Linked DNA regions of Homo sapiens. The protein of the gene in region 1 interacts with the protein of each later gene in a pairwise test. Each region holds a gene or a part of one and is shown in the gene's direction. Other genes may lie near its edges.

Region 1 (8,201 bases):
ATGCTGGATGAGGGACAGACACCTCCTTTCATCCTCCCAACCCTGGCTGAATATATGTGTCCCCACCCTGTTCAGATGAGACTGAAGGTTTGAGAGGTCAAGTGAATCTGTGAATCCGCCGCGGTTAATGGAGCCAGGACTGGAGGAAGAGTCGATTCGGGCCTTCCTGCTTTCTTCCTCTGACCCTACCCCCATTTAAAATGCAGGTTTTAGGCTGGACGTGGTGGCTCACACCACCGAACACTTTGGGAGGCCGAGGCAGACGGATCACTTGAGGTCAGGTGTTTGAGACCAGCCTGGCCAACATGGTGAAATCCTGTCTCTACTAAAAACACAAAAATTAGCTGGGCATGGTGGTGGGTGCCTGTAATCTCAGCTACTTGGGAGCCTGAGGCAGGAGAATCACTTGAACCCGGGAGGCGGACGCTGCAGTGAGCCAAGATCACGCCACTGCACTCCAGTCTGGGCAACAAGAGCAAAACTCCGTCTCAAAAAAAAGGGGGCGCTGAGGGCAGTGGCTCAAGCCTGTAATCCCAGCAGTTTAGGAGGCTGAGGCAGGTGGATCACCTGAGGTCAGGAGTTCGAGACCAGCCCGACCAACATGGTGAAACCCCATATTTACTACAAATATAAAGTTAGCCAGGTGTGGTGGCATGCACCTGTAATCCCAGCTACTCAGGAGGCTGAAGCAGGAGAATTGCTTGAACCAGGAGGCAGAGGTTGCAGTGAGCTGAGATCACACCACTGCACTCCAGCCTGGGCGACAGAGCAAGACTCCATCTCAAAGAAGAAGAAAAAAAAAAGAACAAGAGGGACCTAATCCCTGGTGTCCTCTAAGACCCCCAGGAGGGGGAGGATGGGCTGGGCTCGCCAAGGATCCCTGTCCCCAGGGAGTCACTGGTTCCCCTCTGTCGGCCCTTCCTGCCCAGGCTCCTGGAGGCCGACTCCAAGTCCATGCGCTCCATGAATGGCTCGCGGCGGAACAGTGGCTCCTCGCTAGTGTCCAGCTCCTCGGCCTCCTCCAACCTGAGCCACCTGGAGGAGGACACGTGGATCCTGTGGGGCCGGATCGCCAACGAGTGGGAGGAGTGGCGGCGCAGGAAGGAGAAGCTGCTCAAGGTGGGGGGCGGCCAGGCAGGCAGGGCTGGGCCGACGGCGTGGGCAGGTGGTGCGGTCACTCAGCCACCAGGCAGCGCCAGGGTCTGCGGGGCCCCAGCCTGGGCACAGCGGCAGCAGTGGAGATGTGCAGGCACTTTCAGGGTGTCCTGCCAGAGCACAGGGACAGGAGAGAGTGAGTCAGGGTGGTGCTGGACAGGCCCTGCACCCTCGAGTGCCCATGTGCTTGCTGCCCTGTAGTGCCCATGAAGGATGGGGGTGTGGTGGCTCACGCCTGGAATCTCAGCACTTTGGGCGGCCAAGGTGGGAGGATCGCTTGAGGCCAGGAGTTCGAGGCCAGCCTGGGCAACGTAATGAGACTCCGACTCTATAAAAAGTTTAAAAATTAGCCAGGTAGGCCGGGCGCAGTGGCTCACGCCTGTAATCCCAGTTCGTTGGAAGGTCGAGGCAGGCAGATCACCTAAGGTCAGGAGTTCAAGACCAGCCTGGCCAACATGGCGAAACTCCGACTCTACTAAAAATACAAAAATTAGCTGGGCGTGGTGGCGTGCACCTGTAATCCCAGCTACTTGGGAGGCTGAGGCAGGAGAATCACTTGAACCTGGGAGGCAAGAGGTAGCAGTGAGCCAAGATCACGCCACTGCACTCCGGCGTGGGCAACAGAGTGAGACTCCATCTCAAAAAAAAAAAAAGTTTAAAAATTAGCCAGGCGTGGTGGTGCACAACTGTAGTCCCAGCTACTCAGGAAGCTGAGGCAGGAGGATCGCTTGAGCCCAGGAGTTCAAGGCTGCAGGGAGCTATGATCGCACCACTGCACTCCAGCCTGGGTGACAGAGGGAGACCCTGTCTCTGAAAAAAGGGGGTAAAAAAAGGATTGGGGACCATGAGTTCTGTGCCATGCTTGAGGCCTGGATGAGCCACGCCTGAGGAGCTGGGCTGGGTGGCCACGGGGAGGCTGCGCTGGGACCGAGTCCAGCCCCCGCTTCCCGCTCCCGTGGCCAGGAGCTGATCCGCAAGGGCATCCCCCACCACTTCCGGGCCATCGTGTGGCAGCTTCTGTGCAGCGCCACGGACATGCCCGTCAAGAACCAGTACTCCGAGCTGCTCAAGATGTCCTCGCCGTGCGAGAAGCTGATCCGCAGGGACATCGCCCGCACCTACCCGGAACATGAGTTCTTCAAGGGCCAGGACAGCCTGGGCCAGGAGGTCCTCTTCAACGTCATGAAGGTGAGGCCCAGGGCTCCCCGCTCCCTCGGTCCCAAAGGAAGGAGAAGTTCCCCAGTTCACCGGCTGTGCTGGACGGCGGGACCCTGCTCTCAGGACTTGTTCCCTTCTAGGCATACTCGCTGGTAGACCGGGAGGTGGGCTACTGCCAGGGAAGCGCCTTCATCGTGGGCCTGCTCCTCATGCAGGTAGGTGGCTGGGGGGTGGCTGGGCTCCTGCCAGACAACAGCCCACCCTGGGCTCGGCCCCCAAGAGATGGACAGAAGTGGCGTGTCCTCCACCCAGCGTCTTGCTAGGGGTAGATCCTCCTTCTCCATCCACACCCGTGACCTCTGCCAATCGCCAGGCCAAGGCCCAGTGAGTGGCACCTGTCTGGTTGGGTCCTGTCTGCTGTACCATCCAGGACAGAGACCGGGTTTGGAGGGATAGGCTGTCTCTCTCTGCCACATCTCAGGGTTGGACAGGAACCTCAGGCTGGGGACTTAAGCCATCCAGCGTGGTGTTTATGGGGCTTGGGGGTCTCCTCCAGAGAAATCGGGAGGCTGACAGGGAGAGAGGACGCAGCTGGGACAGGAGGTATCCTAACCAGGGGGATGCTGGCAGTGGCCAGCCCTGGGTTCAGGTCCAGCTCCCCTGTTTCCTGCCGAGTGGCCCTTGGCAGGTGACCTCAGCCTCAGGTCTTCCATCAGTAAAACAGCTTGTGAGGACACAGGGACCAACAGTGTGTCATGAGAGTCTAGGGAGCCAGGTACCGACATGGACATGGGCCCCTGTACCCCAGGGCCCTGATGAGCAGCGAGATGCCCCTCCCCGCTGCGCTGCCCTGAGCCCCCCCACCTGCCCGTCCCCCCTAGATGCCTGAGGAGGAGGCCTTCTGTGTGTTCGTGCGGCTGATGCAGGAGTACCGGCTGCGGGAGCTCTTCAAACCCAGCATGGCCGAGCTCGGGCTCTGCATCTATCAGTTCGAGTACATGCTGCAGGTGAGCAGGGCCGCAGGAGAGCAGGGCTGCAGGAGGGCAGGGCCACAGGTGGGCAGGGCCGCAAGGGAGCAGGATCGCAGAAGGGCAGGGCTGGCACCCTAGACCATACCCGGGCACCTCTTGGACTGAAAATTCCAAGCCTGTGAAATCACACCTGGACGTTCCAACTCCAAAAGGCACTCCTCTTTCCATGCAGCACTGCCCTGAAGGATGCTTGGAGGAACAGGAGAGCCACCACTGAAGGGGGGCTCCCAGGGCTGCTGAGGCAGAGGGGTGGGGCAGGCTCACATCGGACACAGCCACAGCCACCTCCCTGTCTGCTCCAGAGTGTGGTGGAAGGAGGGAGTGTTGTCTGCCTGCCTGATTACTGGAGAGCCGCAGACGTCTGTTTATAAATAGCAGCCCCCGCAGGGCCTGCTCCCGGCTGGCAGGCAGAGCCGCCAAGGCCGTTTGCGAACATACACACACCCGCATGCATACACACACACGCAGACACACACACACACACCGGCCCGCCTCAGCTGCCATGGCAGGTGGGGCTGTGCAGTCATCCCTGGATGTGACAGCCCCACTCCCTGGGCCTGGATCATGGACGGTGCTGTAGCCTTAGGGGGCCTGGTAGTGCCACAAGCAGGAGGCCTGGGCTGCAGAGAAGGCACCACCCCACCTCAGGCTGGGTAGCAGAGCCCTCCCACAGCCAAGCTTGCAAACTCAGGGCGCAGAGAGCCCCTGGCGCTGGGAGGAAGCCCGGGATCCTAACGCCTTCTCCGGCCTCAGTTTCCCCAGCCGTCTGCCACTTTCTGGCTGTCTAGAGTTCAGGCCAATCCAACACAGCTTGCACAAAGCTTTATGCTGGGGTCCAAGGGAGGTACAGTGGCTGGCAGGTCACGTAACAAGGTGGGGGGGGGGCTCCCCCCAGGGCCAGAGGCTGCCACTTGCCCATGCTCCACCTCTGGGTCTCAGGGTGTCTGTGGGGAGTGACCCAACTCCCCCAGCCTCAGACACACCCTCTCAGGCTGTCGTGAGGACCCCATGAGCTGCCACGGGCGCATCACCTACCCAGGGTGGGCCCCCAACACAGGCGGCTACAGATCTTGCCATCCCTGCCTGTCCCCCACCCCGTGCTACTCAAAGCTCGGGGGTGCTTCGGCCTCCCTCAGACAGAGTGCTGAGGGAGCACCAGGAAGGGAGCCTCAGGCTGCCCAGCGCAGGTCCAGGAAGGCTCCCTGGAGGCGGGGACACTGAGGCCCAGCACCCCCCGGTGGGAGGGCGTCCCCCTCACTGTGCCCACCCGGCCTCCCACCCCTGCAGGAGCAGCTCCCAGACCTCAACACCCACTTCCGTTCCCAAAGCTTCCACACATCCATGTATGCCTCGTCCTGGTTCCTCACACTGTTCCTGACCACCTTCCCACTCCCCGTCGCCACCCGGGTCTTTGACATCTTCATGTATGAGGTGAGGACCGATGGTGCCTGGGGAGGGAAGAGAGCCCCTTGGGGGTGGTTGGAACAGGAGCCTCCCTGCCCTCCACCTCCCACTGCCTTTGCCGCCTTTGCAGGGGCTGGAGATCGTGTTCCGAGTGGGCCTCGCCCTGCTGCAGGTGAACCAGGCAGAGCTGATGCAGCTGGACATGGAGGGGATGTCCCAGGTGGGCCGGGAGGGCCAGGGCCGGTGGGGCTGCCCCCAATCAGGGGCTTCGAGTCACAGGATGCCCTCACAAGTGACAGAGAGGGCCCGGCTTCGAGGGTGGAAGGTGGTGTGCCTGACATCCCTGATCTGTTCCCATCCACTCTGTTCCCCTGAGGTCTCCCTAAGGGACCAGAGGACCCCCTAGGCTCTGCCAGACACAGTCAGGGGCCAGCAGCCTGGCCGCAGGGAGACAGGAGGCCCAGGCTGAGCCCTGGGAGCCCCACTGCCCACCTCCTGCCCCCAACCCCGCAGATGCCCCAAAGCCTGATGGCAGATCATGACTGACTGACCATGAGGGCATCCCCACCCTGCCGCCCAGCCTGGTGAGGGCACAGGAGGGAGTTTGGGGGTCTAGGCAACCTCACGCCTTGCCCCGCCCCAGCCCGGCCTGCCTGGAGGCCCTGCTGCTGGCCAGCCTGCCTCCCACCGCTACTTCTCTGCTGTGCGGGCCCCTGCCCCCTCCCCGCGTCCTCCAGCTGGTGCTTCAGGGAAGAATGCACAAAGGCCACGGTTGTGTCCGTGAACATGGGCAGGCATTGTCCACAGCTACCAGAGGGGGCCAGCTGGGCCGGGTGCAGGAGCTGTGTCCCCCCTGGGCTTACCTTAACCCTTTGCACAGGCCCGAGGCCCCCGGCATACCCATCCTCCTTCCCCCACGAAGGTCCCCTCTGTCAGACCCCCCGACCCTCAGCCTTCACTCCCAGGAGAGCCTCCTTGGCCTGCTTTTCTTTTTTTCTTTTACCTTTTTCTTTTTTTTTTTAAGTCGGAGTTGCTCTGTGGCCCAGGCTGGAGTACAGTGGTGCAGTCCTAGCTCACTGCAGCCTCCACCTCCTGGGCTGAAGCGATCCTCCCGCCTCAGCCTCCTGAGTAGCTGGAACCAGAGGTGTACATCACCATGTCCAGCTAATTTTTTTTTTTCAGAAATGGGGTCTCACTATGTTGCCCACACTGGTCTCAAACTCCTGGGCTCAAGCTATTTATTTCTCCCACCTCAGGCTTTTAAATCATTGGGATTATATGAATGAGCCACCACATCCAGCATCTGCCAGCTTTTCTTCTGGAAACTAAGGCTTTGGCTGCAGGCAGTCCCCCATTCCCTCCCCTCACGCTCAGTCTTTCCATTGCTCCACAAACACTGAGGACACGGCGTTGAGGACATGGCGACACCCCGGGCAGACCCGTTCCTGCCCCCCTCCAGGGCAACAGGGCTCGGGCGGCCCCCGGTGGTCAGGGCCTGCATGTTGGTGACCAGGTGACCGGCTGTGTCCCCACAGTACTTCCAGAGAGTGATCCCCCACCAGTTCGACAGCTGCCCGGACAAGCTGGTCCTCAAAGCCTACCAGGTCAAGTACAACCCCAAGAAGATGAAGAGGTCGGTGCCTGCTGGGCAACCAGGGTACTGGTAAGAAGGGGGGACCCCCGAGGGCATGACAGTAACCACGGGGCCCTCCCGATCTGCAGGCTGGAGAAGGAGTACGCAGCCATGAAGAGCAAGGAGATGGAGGAGCAGATCGAGATCAAAGTGAGTCCAGGGGCCCAGGGGCGGGGACAGGGATGGGAGGCCTTTGGGGGCTGCCCTCCGTACTCTAAAGATCGGCCGCTAGGGGGCGGGCCTTCCCAGCGCACAGGCGGACCCGGCGGTCCTTGGCGGACAGGCCTCCGCCCACCTGCGCCGTCCTTCACCTGTTAGGCCAGCTGTGAGCGCCTCCCCCGCCTGACGCCGCGGTAACCAAGACAGTCAAGGTCCCTGCCCCGCTGGGCCGCCCAGCGTCATGGGGAAGCAATCAATAAACCACTGAACTAGAGTGCGGACTCTAAATGCTCTGGACAAGGATGTGCACGCGGTGGGCAAGGCTGACTTGGGCAGAGGCTCCGGGCCCAGGGTGTCGAGGGCTAAAGGCCCAGGGCAGCAGCGTGCCTTGGGGGCTGGAGGAATTCCAAGAAGGTTGCAGTGGAGGACCCCGCAAGGGGACCGCCCTCTGGGGAAAGATGGAGCACGCAGGGCCCAGACACCAGGGTGTGTAGGGCAGGGTGTGGGCACTCACCCGGGGCCCCTGGTTCCTGGGGCAACTGGCCCACCAGCCCTGCCAGGTCAGGGGGTTTCCTGAGTGTGCAAAGCTTCTCTCTCCTTCCTTGCGCATTCTTCCCTTTACACGTGATTTTAGTTATTTACTCAACAAGCATTTATTGCCGGGCGCGATGGCTCATGCATGTAATCCCAGCACTTTGGGAGGCGGAGGCAGGTGGATCACTTGAGGTCAGGAGTTCGAGACCAGCCTGGCTAATGCAGTGAAACCCCGTCTCTATTAAAAATACAAAAATTAGCTGGGTGTGGTAGCACACACCTGTAATCCTGGCTACTCGGGAGGCTGAGGCAGGAAAATCACTTGAACCCGGGAGGCGGAGGTTACAGTGAGGCAAGATTGTACCGTTGCACTCCAGCCTGGGCGACAGAGTGAGACTGTGTCTCAAAAAAAAAAAAAAAAGAAAAGAAAAGAAAAAAAACATTTATTGAGCACCTGCTGTGTGCCAAAGTCACAGCTGAGACTGAGGGCGCACCAGTGATAGGAAGGGACACAGACACAAACCCAACACAGCCTGGCTCCATGCTCTTCAGGGGCAGAGCCGCACAGTGGCTAACACTGGAGTCCAACAGACAAGGATTCAATTCCAGCTCCAGCGGCACAGTGGCTCACACCTGTAATCCCAACACTTTGAGAGGCTGAGGTGGGAGGGTGGCTTGAGGCCAGGAGTTGGAGACCAGTCTGGGCAACATAGCAATACCCCGTCTTTACAAAAATATAGAAATAAATACAAAAGGTGTGCCCAGCTCCTGCAAGGATGGCTGTGCTTGGTGCTGTGATGGGTTGAAGCCAGAGAGATGATAGGGAAACCCAGGGGCCAGGGATCAGGGCTCCAGATTGCTATGAGGACCAGAGACCTGAAATAGCTCTGACCCAGCTGAACTGAGGGACTAGGGCAATGCCCTGCCCCACTCTGACTCAGTTTCCCCACATGACATGCATCAATGACTGTCAAGTCTGCGGTTCTGTCTGACTGCATTTGCTTCCTGGGAATGTTCTAGGTGTTTCCATCACCTTTTCTCCCCAGAAGAAACCCAGGAAATATTCTGTGTGACCTGCAGTGTGGCAGGGCCCTCACTCACCTGCCAATCCAAACAATTTCTGTACC
Region 2 (8,201 bases), on another chromosome or scaffold:
AACCCAGACACAGATTGAACTGTGGTATGGCCTGCAGATTTTTGACAAAGGTACAAAAGCAATTCAATGGAGCAAGGTTATTACTTCGACATTTCAAGCAAATGGTGCTTGAGCAATAGGACATTCATAGAAATGTCCTATTTGAAATTAACTCAAAATGTACCATCGGTTTAATAAAACCATAAGGTGGCCGGGCACGGTGGCTCACGCCTATAACCCCAGCACTTTCGGAGGCTGAGGCGGGTGGATCATCTGAGGTCAGGAGTTTGAGATCAGCCTGGCCAACATGGCAAAACCCCGTCTCTACTAGAAATACAAAAATTGTCCAGTGTGGTGGCACACGCCTATAGTCCCAGCTCTTTGGGAGGCTGAGGTTGGAGAATCTCTTGAACCCGAAAGGCAGAGGTTGCAATGTGCCGAGATCACACCACTGCACTCCAGCCTGGGCGACAGAGCAAGACTCTGTCTCAAAAAAAGAAAAAAAGACCCATAAGGCTTTTAGAAGAAAATACAGGAGAAAATCTTTGGAACATAAGACTACGTGAAGAGGCTGGGTGTGGTGGCTCACGCCTGTAACCCCAGCACTTTGGGAAGCTGAGGCGGGCAGATCATCTGAGGCCAGGAGTTCAAGACCAGCCTGGCCAACATGGCGAAAACCCATCTCTACTAAAAATATAAAAATTAGCTGCATGTGGTGGCACGTGCCTGTAATCTCAGCTATTCCAGAGGCTGAGGCAGGAGAATCTCTTGAACCTGGGAGGCGGAGGTTGCAGTGAGCCAAGATCGTGCCACTACACTCCAGCCTGGGCAACAGAGCGACACCCTGTTTCAAAAAAAAAAAAAAAAAAAAGACTAGGTGAAGAATTCTTAGACATAACACTAAACACATGATCTGTAAAAGAAAAAAAAATCAGTAAATTAATTAGACTTTCACAAAATTAAAAGCTTCCTCTCTACAAAATACCCTGTCAAGGGAATGAAAAGACTAGCTACAGACTTGGAGAAAATATTTACAAGCCAGTGTATCTGACAAAGGACTTCTGTATAAAAAGAACTTTCAAAAGTCAGCAGTAAAAAGACAAAAAAACTGACAATCCAGGCCAGCCACGGTGGCTCACGCCTGTAATCCCAGCACTTTGGGAGGCTGAGGCGGGCTGATCACCTGAGGTCAGGAGTTTGAGACGAGCCTGGCCAACATGGTGAAACCCCATTTCTACTAAAAATACAACCGTTGGCTGGGCGTGGTGGTGGGCGCCTGTGATCCCAGCTACTTGGGAGGCTGAGGCAGGAGAATCACTTGAACCCAGGAGGCAGAGGTTGCAGTGAGCCGAGACTGTGCCATTGCACTCCAGCCTGGGCGGCAAGATCGAAACTCTATCTCAAAAAAAAAACCCCAAAAACAAAAAACTAACAATCCAATTAGAAAATGGGCAAAAAAAAAAACCAGACATTTCACCAAAGAGGACATGTGGATGGCAAATAAACACATGAAAAAATGTTCACCATCTTAGCCACAGGGAAATACAGATTAATGTGATGATGAAATATTACTATGTGCCCTCTTAGAACTACAGAAATAAAAAAGTGACAGCATCAAATGCTGGTGAGGATGCAGAGAAACTGGATCTTTTATATGTTGCTAGTGCAAATGTCAAGTGATAGAGCCACTCTGGAAAAAGTTGGCCAGTTTCTTACCGTTATACACTTACCATATTACCCATAAATAACATTCCTGGGCATTTATTTCAAAGAAATGAAAAATTATGTCCACATAGAAACCTGTAAATGAATATTCTTCGAACTTTGTTATAGCCAAAAACTGGAAACAACCCTGAATGTCCTTCCATGGGTGAATAATTAAGCAAATTGTGATACAGACATACCATAGAATGCTACCCAGCAATGAAATGGGACAGACCAGGATTATGTGCAAAACTTGAGAGGACTTCAAGAGCATTATGGTGAAAGAAGTGTTAAATGCCGATTTCAAAAGGTAGCATACTACATGATTCCACTTACGTAACATTCTGGAAATGAAAAAAATATAAACATAGAAAACAGATTATTGATCAGAGTTTAGGGACTATGGGGAGTAAAGAGGTGATGTAATAGTTCTTTGTCTTGTGGTAGTTACACAAATCTGTACATGTAATAAATTGTAGAGAACTATATATACACACATACACAAATAAGTGCATGTAAAAAAAAAAAACCCTGAAATCTTAATAAGGTCTGTAGATTGTATCCAATGTCCATTTTCTGGTTTTGCTATTATGCTGCAGTAATATAAGATGTTATCATTAGGAAAAGCTGGGTGAAAGGTACCCAGGACCTCTCTGCACAGTTTTGTAACTTCCTGTAAGGCTGTAATTATTTCAAAATAAAAGTTTTAAAAATATTAACTCGAAAGAGGAGCAGGGATAGTTGGAGAGATACAGGGTTGAGATTGGGGTCTTTTGCTTTATATTTATTTATTTATTTATTTATTTATTTATTTATTTATTTATTTATTTTGAGACGGAGTCTCGCTCTGTCACCCAAGCTGGAGTGTAGTGGCACCATCTTGGCTCACTGCAACCTGTGCCTCCTGTGTTCAAGCAGTTCTCTTACCTCAGCCTCCCGAGCAGGTGGGATTACAGGCACGTGCCACCATGCCGGGCTAATTTTTGTATTTTTAGTAGAGATGGGGTTTCACCATGTTGGCCAAGTGTCTTGAACTCCTGACCTTAAGTGATCTACACGCCTCAGCCTCCCGAAGGGCTGGGATTACAAGTGTGAGCCACTGCGCCCGACCTTATTTTTGCTTTTTTAAAAAAGATACTAAAACATGTTTGTAAGCTGATGAGATGATCCATAAAAGAGCAAAATGATGATACAAATGAGAGGGCATAGTTACAGGAGCAAAATACATCTTACACCTTTGGCTTTAAGCATTAAATAATGGAAAATACTACTATTTACATTTCTGTCTTATTATTTATAAGTGAGGTTATCTTTACAACTTTTGGTTAATGATTCTAAATGTAAATATGACTGTACTATGGTATAGTTCTCTAATGTTCTAAAAATCCTACCTGCTTTTGTGTTACATTATGGAACTAAATTATTAAATAAAATGAAATTTTAAGAGTTTCTATGGTGTTTGCTAGTGCTTATTCAATAAACTTGAGTTTTATGTGTCACTTCCTACTGTTTTCCCTTTCAGATTTTCATCCAGTATGGGTAGGTTATTAATTTCCTTCAACTAAAAAGTTTTTATATATACTTAGGAAAAACTATTCTTGTTTTGTCCTTTATGTGAAATGTAGTAATATCAAAATGCTTAATAGAAATTATTGGCTGTTTATTTCAGGGATACAGCAGGCCAGGAGCGATTTCACACCATCACAACCTCCTACTACAGAGGCGCAATGGGTATCATGCTAGTATATGACATCACCAATGGTAAAAGTTTTGAAAACATCAGCAAATGGCTTAGAAACATAGATGAGGTAAGACCTAGAACTTGTATAAACCCTTCATGAACACACATTTGTGTGCTTGGTTAGGAAGAATAAATATTCCAACTGATCTTCAGGATATAATGTACTGTTGAAGTCATTATTATTGAAGTATTTCTATTTTCTAAAAGTTAATGTTGGCCGGGCATGGTGGCTCATGCCTGTAATCCCAGCACTTTGGGAGGCTGAGGTGGGAGGATCACCTGAGGTCAGGAGCTAAAGACCAGCCTGGCCAACATGGTGAAACCCCATCACTACTAAAAATTATAAAAATCAGCTGGGTGTGGTGATGTGCACCTGTCGTCCCAGCTACTCAAGAGTCCAAGGCAGGAGAATCTCTTGAACCTGGGAGGTAGAGGTTGCAATGAGCCAAGATTGCGCCACTGCACTCCAGCCTGGGCAACAGAGCAAGACTCCGTCTCCAAAAAAAAAAAAAAAAAAGTTAATGTTGTTATTTGCTAATTTTTTCTTAAGTTTTTGGACAGTCTATCTAGAGCCCCATTCAAGACAATTAGTAAATTACTCCAAAACTCTGTATAGCCATCTTACAAGATGACCCCAAATAGAAGCTACCAGTGATTTTACAATGATTTTCTGGAAATGAATTTTTTCTTAATAAATTTTTATTGAATGAATGAAATGTCCGGTAGTAATTTTTTAAAACTTTATTTTTCATGTTATAGAAATATAATATTGCTTCTAGGCATTTTGAAATATATGGAATACTAATATAGTAAAAACCTAACTAAGAAAATAGTTCCATTGCATGTGAAAATGTTGTTTTTTTTTCTGTATTTTGGGTTTTTTTGAGATAGAGTCTCACTTCATCACCCAGGCTGGAGTGCAGTGGCACAATCTTGGCTCACTGCAATCTCTGCTTTCTGGGTTCAAGTGATTCTAGTGTCTTAGTGTCTTGAGTAGCTGGAATTACAGGTGTGCACCACCACACCCGGCTAATTTTTGTATTTGTAGTAGAGATGGGGTCTCGCCATGTTGGCCAGGCTGGTCTTGAACTTCTGGCCTCAAGTGATCTGCCCACCTTGGCCTCCTGAAGTGCTAGGATTGCAGGCATGAGCCACTGCACCCAGCCTGATGTTACTTTTTATAAGTTAAAATTATGTATCAAAGCATGTCTGTTTCTTTGCTACAGCATAGGTGGCTTCTTGTTAAGAGTTGTTTTTCATGCCTTATTGCTACCTTCTAGGCTTTGAGTTTTGTTAACAGTAACTCTTTGAAGCAAATTTTGGCCAGATACACAAAGACCAAGTCTTAAACCAATATTAGACCCAAGATAATACCCCTAATGGTAGCAATCCTAAGGGCTCATTACCACTGTTTTGTTGCTACAATAAATCTTTGGGAGAAGCTTATTATTTTTTAATAATTATTTAAAGATACACAGATCTTGGCTGGGCGCGGTGGCTCACGCCTGTAATCCCAGCACTCTGGGAGGCCGAGGTGGGCGGATCACCTGAGGTCAGGAGTTCGAGACCAGCCTGACCAACATGGAGAAACCCCGTCTCTACTAAAAATACAAACTTAGCTGGGTGGGGTGGCACATGCCTGTAATCCCAGCTACTTGGGAGGCTGAGGCAGGAGAATCGCTTGAACCCAGGGGGTGGAGGTTGCAGTGAGCTGAGATCACGCACCATTGTACTCCAGCCTGGGCAACAAGAGCGAAACTCCATCTCAAAAAAAAAAAAAAATACAAATCTTAAAACAAAAAAGCTTTATTTTGATTTCCTTATTCTTTATTTTATTGTTCAGGTAAGTAGTCTGTAGTAAGAGCAGTTTAGAGATTCTGCAGTGTGTTTCCAACAACCACCAATTCTCTGATTCTACCACATGAACTGGTGTCCTGCTATTCAATGCTATTCTGACACTGACTACCCTGAATTAGTATCAGACTCCACAAGTTTAAGGACTCATTCCTACAAAATTGCCCTCACTTGAGATGCCATTTGCAAGTCCTGGGTCCCCAGGCTTACCCACATTTCTGCCTTCTGTCCAAGCTGGCTATAGATTTTGGGGATGCCAACAATGCCACTCCATGTGATCATTTGCTAGGGTGAGTCATAGAACTTAGGAAAATGCTATACTTGGGATTACAGTTTCATTATAAAGTATACAATTCAGGAACAGCCAAATGGAAGAGAGGCATATGTGGGGAGTAGCGGCAGGGCTCCAGAGCTTCCATCCCCTCTCTGGATACGCCACCTCTCCCAGCACCTTGATGTGTTCACCGAATTGGAATATTCCTTACCCTCAGTTTTTCAGATTTTTGAATTGAAGTTCCATCACTTAGGCATAATTGATTAAATCATTGACTTCTGGTGATTGAGTGTAATGTCTGTCTCCCTTCCCCTCCTAGGAGGTCAGGAAGTGGGACTGAAATTTCCAATCCTCTTATCACTTGGTTGGTTCCTCTGGAGACCAGCCCCCATTCTGAAGCTAGATAGGAGCCTTGTCATCAGTCACCTCATTAGCATAAACTCATTATAGTCAAAAGAATCTTGTTATGAATAACAAAAGACAACCCTGTCACTCAGGAAATTGGGAGGTCAGTGACAGGAACTGGGAACAAAGACCTAATATATGTTTTTATTATACCGCAGACTTAAACATCTGACATGGTAGACTGGATGGTTTGTTTCCCAAGATAAACTGAGAAACATACAACCCAGGTATCAAAAAGGAAAATTGTGGGTGTGGTGGTGTACACCTGTGGTCCCAGTTACTTGGGAGGCTGAGGCAGAAAGATTGCTTGAGCCCAAGAATTCAAGGCTGCAGTGAGCTATTATCATACCACTGTGCTTCAGCCTGGGTGACAGAGTGAGACTCTGTCTCTGAAAAAGAAAAGAAGTTATTTAAAAAGAAAATCTTGGCCAGGCGCAGTGGCTCATGCCTGTAATCCCAGCACTTTGGGAGGCTGAGGCAGGCGGATCACCTGAGGTCAGGAGTTTGAAACCAGTCTGGTCGACATGGTGAAACCCTGTCTCTATGAAAAACACAAAAAATTAGCCGGGCATGATGGTGGGCACCTGTAGTCTCAGCTACTCAGGAGGCCAAGGCAGGAGAATCACTTGAACCCAGGAGGCGGAGGAGGTTGCAGTGAGCCAAGATTGCACCACTGCACTCCATCCTGGGCAGCAGAGTGCAACTCCGTCTCAAAAAGAAAGAAAGAGGAAATCTTGTTTCTCTGGTGTATTAAAGGATTATATAACATGATCAAGAGGAACTTACCCAGGAATGCAAGGGTCAGAACCTGTCAATGTAATACACCATATTAATAGACGACAAAACCATACAGTTATCTCAGTTCACACAGAAAAAACATTTGACAAAATCCAACATTCTTTTATGATTAAAACAGTCAGCCAAACGCAGTGGCTCACACCCGTAAATCCCAGCACTTTGGGAGGCCGAGGCAAGTGGATCACCTGAGGTCAGGAGTTCGAGACCAGCCTGGCCAACATGGTGAAACCTCGTCTCTACTAAAAATACAAAAATCAGCCAGGTGTGATGGCAAACACCTGTAACCCCAGCTACTCGGGAGGCTGAGGCAGGAGAATCGCTTGAGCCCAGGAGGTGGAGGTTGCAGTAAGCCAAGATCGTGCCATTGTGCTCCAGCCTGGGCGACAGAGCAAGACTCTGTCTCAAAAAAAAGTCAACAAACTAGGAATAGCAAAGAACTTCCTTAATCCTGTAAGTGACATCTATAAAAATACCACAGCTATTATTGTACCTGTCCCCTAAGATCAAGAGCATGGCAAGAATATCTACTCTGGCCACTTCTGTTCAACATTATGCTGAGTTCCAGCCAGAGCTAAAAAAAAAAAAAAAAAGAAAGAAAGAAAAAAAGCCATCCAGAGTGAAACAACTATTTATAAATGGTAGAATATTTTATATAGAAAATCCTTAAGAACCCACAAACATATACCCAGAAAACTCTTAGAACTAATAAACAAGTTCAGCAAGGTTACAAGAAATGAGATCAACATATAAAAATCAGCTTTATTTCTGTACACTAGCAATAACCTAAAAATTACATTGAGAATAAATTTCCATTTGTAATAATATCAAAAGGCAAAAAATACTTAGGAGTAAATTTAACCAAAAGAGTGTAAGACTTGAACACAGAAAACCACAAAATATTGTTGAAAGAAATTAAAGATCTAAATAATTAGATAGCCATTATTTGTGAATTGGAAGACAATATTAAGATGGCATTACTACCCAAAGTGATCTACAGATTTAGTGCAATCCCTATCAAAATCCCAATTGCTTTTTTAAAAATTCCCCCCCGTAGAAATTGACAAATTGACCCTAAAACTAATATAGAAAGGCAAGGGACCCAGAGTAGCCAAAATAATCTTGAAAAGGAAGTACACAGTTGTAAGATTTATACTTTCTGGTTTTAAAACTTAACCGCAAAGCCACAATAATCAAAACACTGTGATACTGACATAAGGATAGTCATAAAGATTGATTGAATAGTATTGAGAGTCTAAAAATAAACTCTTACATATATGGTCAGTTGACTTTTAACAAGATGGCTAGACAATTCAATGGGCAAAAGAATAGTCTTTCCAACAAATGGTGCTGGGAAAACTGGCTATCCTTGTGTGGAAGAATGAAAGTTAGACACCTACTTCATACCATACAGAAAAGTTAACTCAAAATGGACCACAAAGGTTGGGT
Region 3 (8,201 bases), on another chromosome or scaffold:
TGGGCTCAAGTGATCCTCCCACTTCAGCCTCCTGAGTAGCTGGGACTACTGGTGCATGCCACTACACCTGGCTAATTGTCTTGATTTTTAGTGGAGACAGTCTTGCTATGTTGCCTAGGCTGGTCTTGAACTCCTGAGCTCAAGCACTCCTCCAGCTTCAGGCTCCCAAAGTGTGTGATTTTAAACAGTTGATTTACATTTTAAACAGATGATTTTAATGCAGAATTAGGGGTCAGAAACATAGATCTAGTCCAGTTTATGCAGGACAAGTGAGAGAGGGAGACTCAGAGAGAAATGATTCGACCAAGGTTACCAACTAGTAAATTGGTACTGCTACTGAGCTGGGCTTTTGTGCTTATTAACTTGGTAGAGTTCTTTCCATCAGATTGGACGGTCGTTTCCAGCAGTCTATTCCCCTAAGGAGTGCCTCCCCACAGCAAAGTGTAGGTGCGGCTGCAGCGTCCCTATGTTGCCCTGGCCTTGGAGGGGAGGTGGCAATGGACCCCATCCTTGGCTCCTCTGGTGACCGGAGGGTGACATCAGCCCACCCTTTCTGCTCTGGCTCAGGTGCGGTTCCTGGAGCAACAGAATAAGGTGCTGGAGACCAAGTGGGCACTGCTGCAGGAGCAGGGCCAGAACTTGGGTGTCACCAGGAACAACCTGGAGCCCCTCTTTGAGGCCTACCTGGGTAGCATGCGGAGCACGCTGGACAGACTTCAGAGCGAGCGGGGGAGGCTGGACTCAGAGCTCAGGAACGTGCAGGACCTTGTGGAGGACTTCAAGAACAAGTGAGGAGAGCAGGCCAGGCGGGGCCATGTGGGAGTGAGGAGGGGCAGTGGGAAACCTGCCAAGAGGGCCACCCCATTCCCAGGGTCCCAGGCCCACCTGGGGGATGCACAGACAGAGCTGGCTCCCTCAGGTGCTCAGGTCCAGCACCTGCTGCCACCTGGAGAATTGGCAGGTTTGTTTGTAATTTAAAAAAGTTTTTAAAGTAGGGGGAATAGTATAATGAACCCCATGTTCCTGTCACCCAGCTTTAATCATTATCAACTCATAACCAATCTTGTTGCATTTTTTACACCTCCCCACTTCCCTTCTTCCCGTGTAGTCTTTTTTTTTTACCTTTGCCTTTTTCTACGTGTTCTGATTCCCTTGTAGTCTTGAAGCAAATCCCAGACATCTTGTCATTTCATTCACTAATATTTTACAAGTTATATTCATATATCTGCATGTGAATGTAGTTCATCTATGACTCAGTAAAACATACAGTGGCATAATCACACCTAAAAAATTTTAAAACAATAATTCCTCAATATCATTAAATATCCAGCCAGTTTTGAATTTCCAGTGACCCCATACATGTCATAAATTTAAAAAATACAGCTTATTTGACTCAAGCTCCAAAGGTTTATATATTATAATTGGTTGATATGCGTATTTATAACTTTTAAACACGCACATTTAAAAATGACTTTTCCCATAAATTGACCATGGCAATTTCTAAACCTTAAAATCTCATCAAAAGTGGTTGGGGAGGAGTTAGCTGGTTTGAATGACACTGTGTTGTTGAAAGTGATGGTAAAGGTCAGCCACTGTTGACACATCTTCACTTGTCCCTCTAAAGCCTCCTAAGGGCTTGGATCCAAAGAGATGGCAGCTCTTGATTGCCATATTATTGCACAAATTCTGTGCCTCTTTCCCTAAAATGGGGTGGGGAGAGAGAATGTTTAAATCAAGGCAGACCCCATGTTTCTTCACTGGTTGGCTACATTAAAGAACTGCTCCCCAGAGGTGTTCTTGATCAGTGAGGGACCCATCAGGGCTTCTGTAAGGCTGAGTGGGTCCCATGCCTGAAAGGCAGAGCCAGGCTGAGCCTGGCCTGAGTCTCCCATGTGTAACAGGTACGAGGATGAAATCAACAAGCACACTGCTGCAGAGAACGAGTTTGTGGTGCTCAAGAAGGTGAGCCGAGTGGAGTGGGGGAGGTGGTCCTTTGGCTGCCAGGGTACTGGGCTGATTCGGGGAGAGGGGACATCCCTGGGGCCTGAGGATCTGTCTTGCTCTCTCGTCCCCAGGATGTGGATGCAGCATACATGGGCCGGATGGATCTGCATGGCAAAGTGGGCACCTTGACCCAGGAGATTGACTTCCTGCAGCAACTCTATGAAATGGTGAGGTGGCCAATGGGCAGGGAGAGTTTGCATACACTATAAACAGCACTGGGCGTTTTCCATGGAGGTCTGACCTGAATTCACCAGTGCAACCTCATTGGTGGAAGATGAAACCTTAACACTTTTTTTTTTGAGACGGAGTTTCGCTGTGTTACCCAGGCTGGAGTGTAGTGGCACAGTCTTGGCTCACTGCAACCTCTGCAAAGCGATTCTCCTGCTTTAGCCACTGGAGTAGCTGGGACTACAGGTGCCTGCCACCATGCCCAGCTAATTTTTGTATTTTTAGTAGAGATGGAGTTTTGCCATGTTGGCCAGGCTGGTCTTGAACTCCTGACCTCAGGTGATCCACCCGCCTTGGCCTCCCAAAGTGCTGGGATTACAGGCGTGAGCCACCGCACCCAGCCTAAAACCTTGACACTTTAATTAATACTAGCTTCAACTTATTAAGTGCTTTTGATGGGCCAGGCACGGGGGCAAACTTTTAACATAATCTTCTCAATAACCCCAGAATGCAAGAACTATTATTGTCTCAATTTTATAGTCAAGGACCCTGGGGCTCAGAGTTGCTCGTGGTCACATAGCTAGGAAGAAGCATGCTAGAATTCAAATCTGGCTCTTGAACTCCGAAGTCTGACTCTTACCACTGTTATATTGCCCTCTTCCTGCCCGGTTTGTAATGGAGCAAGGGATGAGGGAGCAGGAATGGGCAGAGAGGAGGGACTGGGATTCCAGATTGGAGTAGAAGGTGAGGCGTGGGTAGATTAAAGAATCCAGGAGGGGTTCCAGGAGACAAGAGGGCTTTGGAGACTAGAGTGAGAGGGTTGAACTTAACATGAATTGACCGCAGAATCACAGACTCTTAGGGTCCGCAGGGACCTCAAGACCAACCTTCCATCCAGTGCAAGAACAATTTCTATGATATCCCTGACATAACCCTATCATATGTAACCTCTACTCAAATACTTCCTGTGGCAGTGAGCTCACTACTTTTTAGGGCAGGCATTACCATTGTTGAACAACTTCATTAGAGCACTGACTTGAATCTCCTTCTCATGACTTCTGCCCTTGACTTTGCCCAATTGTCTTCTTGTGACTTATGCCTTTCACATGATAGCCCTTTAGAAGTCATGATGATGACAGGATAAAAATCTGTGGCATGTGAGGACGTTCAGGAAACAGGGCTTTTAGTGAAGTATTCAGAAGATGGAGGGGTGGGGAGGGAGGTTCCAGATACAAACTTCTATTGATGCAGCCTAATAGTGCACTAGTTTATGTGTTGTTTTAGAAGTTGTTTCACAACGTTGGCTTTCTTAGAACCCCTTCTGGACTTTTTCACATAAATGCTTTCAAATGAGACATGTATCTACTCTCCTCCAACTTCCTGTATGTGGGTAGCTGAATTTTGCAATTGAGTGGAACAGTTAACCATTCCCTTTCTTTCCTATGAAATGCCACTGTGGTGTCATCCCAACATTTTAAGCTATGTGGGCTCTTAGTAACTTGATTCTTTTATCCAGTGTATTAGTGATGCATAGCTTTGTGTTATCTGCAGGTGGGATAAACTTTCAGTCTAGGTATTTGATAGCATCTCAGTGTAAATCATTGATACACATGTTAAGGCAATCAGGGCCTAAAACAAAGTCCTGTGGGTCTTCAGTGGTGATTTTCCAAGGGACTGTTAGTCTGTTAACCAATAATTTGTGGTTAAAGAGCCTCAGCTACTTTAAAATCCCCTTAACAGTACTGTTACCAGGATCACATTTTTCTGTCTTCTTTCAAGAATGCTATGGAAGGCTTGGTCAGACATTGTCTATGGCAGGCCTTTAGCAGTTTAATATTATAATCATGAAGGAAAATGAAATCCACTTGGTTCCACTTTTCCTTAGGGAACCCATGATGGCTTCATGCCTCTCACACACATTTAGGAATTCATTCTATGGGTCTGGAGGAGGTTGATGTCAGCCTTATTTGAAAAATTCCAAATCTCTCCCATTTGAAAATCAGGCCATTTGCTGCGTTTGGGGTTTTGGGGTCTCCTCCTCTCCATATCTCTCAAGGATGACCAGGGCGTTCCTTCCCTTGGCAGTCCCTGGAGCCTCTGAGTGTATGCTTTTCTAGCCTGGATCCCTGTGATCTCCAACAAGGCCAAGGTCTCTCATCTACCCTGTCTTGGGTTCCCATTTCCTCTCAAGCATATTTCTTGTGCTTTCCACTTTGATGACCAGTTTGTTCTTGATGGAAAAGAGGCAAATGACAAAGCAGCTGAGCGATTGGCCTTTCCTGGATCTTCTGTAGGGATCAGCCCAAAGGGACCTCCGTGTTATTTCTGCCTAGAGTTCATCTAGCAGCCTCTGACCCCTGGCTTTGGTGTTTCCCGGGCTTATCCTTGGCTGGATTGCTTGCCTTCCAGCATCTCTGCACGGCCTGTCTGGATGGAACTTACTGGGAAGTTTTCTGGGCTGCCATGCTGAGTTTTTAGGTGCTTCCCCAGTTTCTACTTTGCCAGGGTCATTGATAGTCATTCATGGTCTGGGGCCTCCTTGTGGTCCATTAGGTTCCATTCTCTCTCCCCCTCTTTTCTGAATGTTTAGGAATTGGCTTTTCTTTGGTCTAAGGACATGGCTGGCATACTCAGCATTCCTTTCCATTGCTATGCCTTGTTTATTTAACAAACATTTACTGAGCACCTTCCACATAGCAACAAAGACAAAGTCTCAGCTCTTGTGGGGCCAGGTTATCAAGTGATGAGAGCTGTGGGGGACAGGCACAGGTGCAAAGGCACATGGGACGCCATGGCTGACCCTTCCTGGGAGGGCTGCGGAAGCCTTCGAGGGAGGTGACTTCTGAGTTGGATCTTGATGGAAGGGCTAGACTTCTAGAGGAGGAGCAGGAAGGACTTGGCAGCCTGGGGCCCAGCCTGTGCAGTGTCATGGAGGCATGAAGGAACATGGTGCTTGGGGACCAGTGGGTGGTGAGTGCCCACATCGAGTGTGTGGGCACAGTTAGGTGAGCAGGAGGCAAGGGAAAGAGTGGTAGGGACCAAGCCTGGGCCCTTTCCTGTCAGAGGTCCTCACGGCCCAGCAGTGCCTCCGTGGGGTGAGAACAAGGATCAGCACAATTGTTCTGTTGCTGCCTCATGGGCTCGATCAGTCACGGAACCAGCATGGCTCTCAGTAACCAATGCCATGATCTGGTTTTGGCCAAGCCAGATCCCACGGCAATCTGGGGGATGAACCACCTATCACTGGGTGTCTCATAGGGCAGGAAGGCAGCCTCCATGGTGGCCTCCCTCTGGCCTGGGGCATCTGTGGAACCCAGTCCCTCTTCCGCTTGTGCCACTTCTGCCCGCTGGCTCCCTTTACCCTTGCCTAGAAGTCTCCACTGTCTTTCCCCCTTAGAGTCCCTGGTGTCTAAGGAGACACACACCTTAGCGATTCACAGAGCTCTTTCTGCTCTGATTTCACGAGCTCCCTTTCATCGGAAAGCCTGACTTTTTTTTTTTTTTTTTTTGAGACAGGGTCTCATTCTGTCACTCATGCTGGAGGGCAGTGGCGCAATCACAGCTCACTACAGTCTCGACCTCCTGGGCTCAAGCGATCCTCCCACCTCAGCCTCCCAAGTAGCTGGGATTACAGGCGCACGTCACCATGCCTGGCTAATTTTTGTATTTTTTGTAGCGACAGCATTCACCATTTTCCCCAGGCTAGCCTTGAACTCCCAAAATGCTGGGATTACAGGTGTGAGCCACTGCACCTGGCCAAGCCTGACCTTTCTATCCCCTTGTTCCAGCAAGACCATTGCATCACCTCATCCACTCTTGATGCCATCCAGTGGAGAGATTTTGCCTCCTTGTCTTAAAAGTTTCGGGTTGATTTTCCTGAGGACTATGCTCTGACATGGGGCTAGAGACCCTGAGCTAAGGAGGGCAGGGGCAGGATGCGTCAAGATGATGCTGACAGTTCATCTCGGTGGGGAAGGAGACAAAGCAGCTGTGACAACACAATCTTATCTGTGACAAATAGACCTTATGGGCACCTCCAGTGGCCTTCAGAGAAGTCTGGGAAAGTAAGAATGCACTTTACTCAGCACATGCCATGGGTCATACATGGATCTTAAGCCCCACAACCACCACAGGAAGAAAGTATGATCAGGCCGTGTTACAGAAGAGGGAACTGAGGCATCGCAAGGCTCAGCTGCTACATCAGCTACACAGCCAGTGCGTGTTAGGCTGGGGACTTGATCTCAGGCTTGTCTATCTCCAAAACTCATATCTTCCCAAAAACCACAAGTTTTTGTAGTGACTAGATTGATTGCATCTCTAAACTCCTCATCCCACTTTTTGAAAGACAATCTAATTTAACAATCTACATCTACATCAGTATGGATATCAGTTTTGCCTTTGGTATTTCTCTTTTCCCCCTGTCTCTCTTTGTTCCTGCCTATCTCTATTTTAGTCTACGTCCTCTCAGCTTCTGATGTCAGACTCCTGGGGTTTGAAACTGAGCTCCTCACTTACTGGCTTGTGATCTGGGCCAAGTTACTTAATCTCTTTGTGCTACTGGAAAAGGGCATGTAATGAGTTAGTACCTGCCACATGCCTAACACAGAGCCTGAATCACAGTGATGCTCAGCATGCGAGGGTTGTTATTATTATTCTATTATAATTCCCTGGGCTGCCATGAAGGGCCAGTGTTTGAGAAAGGATGGAGACAAGACCAGGATATGGGAGGTGTTGGGTTTTAGGGGGAAGGTTCTCCACCTATCAGGGAGCCTCTGAGGACTACTGAGTGAATGAGTGATTTGTCAGAGCTGGAGTTTAGGGCATTCTATGGGCAGCCCAGAGCAGGAAGGACCATGGGAGAGATGGAGGCAGAGCCCCACGTGGGAGCCATCACAGTCCTGGCCCAGCGATCCCACTGGTCCCAAGGCCAGAACAGAGACCTTTGATTCCCCATCACCTAACCCGCCATTCACAGCATCCTGAAGCCTACTTATGTGTGAAGGACGATGGTTCTAGAAACAGGAGGGCCCAAGAACATCAAGACAGTCTATACTTTTCAGTGTGCTCTAGAGGAAACCACTTGGGCTTTGTGGTGCAATTGACTGGTCCCAGGCTGGGTCCCACCCTGGACCTGGTGCCCTTGGATGCATCACTTCTCCTCTCCAAACCTCTTTCCTCACTTGTCCATGGTCAGGACTACTGTGGATGGTGGTGCAGTTGGTGACTTGGCTGGTGCTGGACATGCTGTTTCCACCTGAAGGGGTGTCTTTCCCCAATTTGCACAAAGGCACCCTGTGAGCCTGCCATGGGCCTGCCAGCTGCACAGGGTGTTCTGAGGCCTAGAGGGGTTAGTGAATGTGCTAGCACAGTGCCGGGCACCAGTGTTAGTGCAGAGAGTACACATTCTCTTTACCCTCTCTAATCTTTTGGAAGCCTGCAAACCCATAAAAATAAATGAAGTCTGTAAAAATGGGAGCTTCATTTTATAGCTGGGGAGACTGAGGCCTTTCCTTGCAGTTTTCCTTACTTTGCTCTAGGCTGGAGCCTGGACAAGAGCACAGGCCTCCTGATGCTACCTGGGGGCCCATGTCCTTCACCCTCTGATGCTTCCTGGGGCCTGGAGCAGGGGTGCTGGTGGCAGCTGTCTCTGATTCTTCAGGAGCTGAGCCAAGTGCAGACCCACGTGTCTAACACCAATGTGGTGCTGTCCATGGACAACAACCGCAACCTGGACCTGGACAGCATCATCGCCGAGGTCAAGGCCCAGTATGAGCTGATTGCCCAGAGGAGCCGGGCTGAGGCCGAGGCCTGGTACCAGACCAAGGTGAGAGGCATAGCTGGCTCAGGTGTGAGGCCTGGGGTCGGATCAGATCTCCCATCGTGAGAGGCTTGGGCCTCTGGGACCCTTGGAGTCCGGGGGGCCAGATATACTCAACTTGCATGGGGCCTCCAGCTGTGAGGGTGGGCTGGGGCCATTTGAAAGCGCACTGCCACTTCTTTGGTCCCCAGTATGAGGAGCTGCAGGTGAC

What was found.
Region 2: the proteins of EVI5L (region 1) and RAB10 interact in a two-hybrid assay, tested with the Homo sapiens proteins (one study listed by BioGRID).
Region 3: the proteins of EVI5L (region 1) and KRT79 interact in binary tests that used the Homo sapiens proteins (3 or more experiments, as listed by UniProt).

What each region holds. Positions count from the first base shown.
Region 1 is NC_000019.10:7,846,803-7,855,003, forward strand, and holds part of EVI5L (EVI5-like protein), read left to right. Parts: intron 1-929; coding exon 930-1,119; intron 1,120-2,118; coding exon 2,119-2,343; intron 2,344-2,453; coding exon 2,454-2,528; intron 2,529-3,194; coding exon 3,195-3,320; intron 3,321-4,631; coding exon 4,632-4,775; intron 4,776-4,878; coding exon 4,879-4,968; intron 4,969-6,283; coding exon 6,284-6,381; intron 6,382-6,470; coding exon 6,471-6,531; intron 6,532-8,201. UniProt on the Homo sapiens protein: Functions as a GTPase-activating protein (GAP) with a broad specificity.
Region 2 is NC_000002.12:26,106,416-26,114,616, forward strand, and holds part of RAB10 (ras-related protein Rab-10), read left to right. Parts: intron 1-3,352; coding exon 3,353-3,491; intron 3,492-8,201. UniProt on the Homo sapiens protein: The small GTPases Rab are key regulators of intracellular membrane trafficking, from the formation of transport vesicles to their fusion with membranes.
Region 3 is NC_000012.12:52,823,993-52,832,193, reverse strand, and holds part of KRT79 (keratin, type II cytoskeletal 79), read left to right. Parts: intron 1-567; coding exon 568-788; intron 789-1,901; coding exon 1,902-1,962; intron 1,963-2,075; coding exon 2,076-2,171; intron 2,172-7,831; coding exon 7,832-7,996; intron 7,997-8,181; coding exon 8,182-8,201.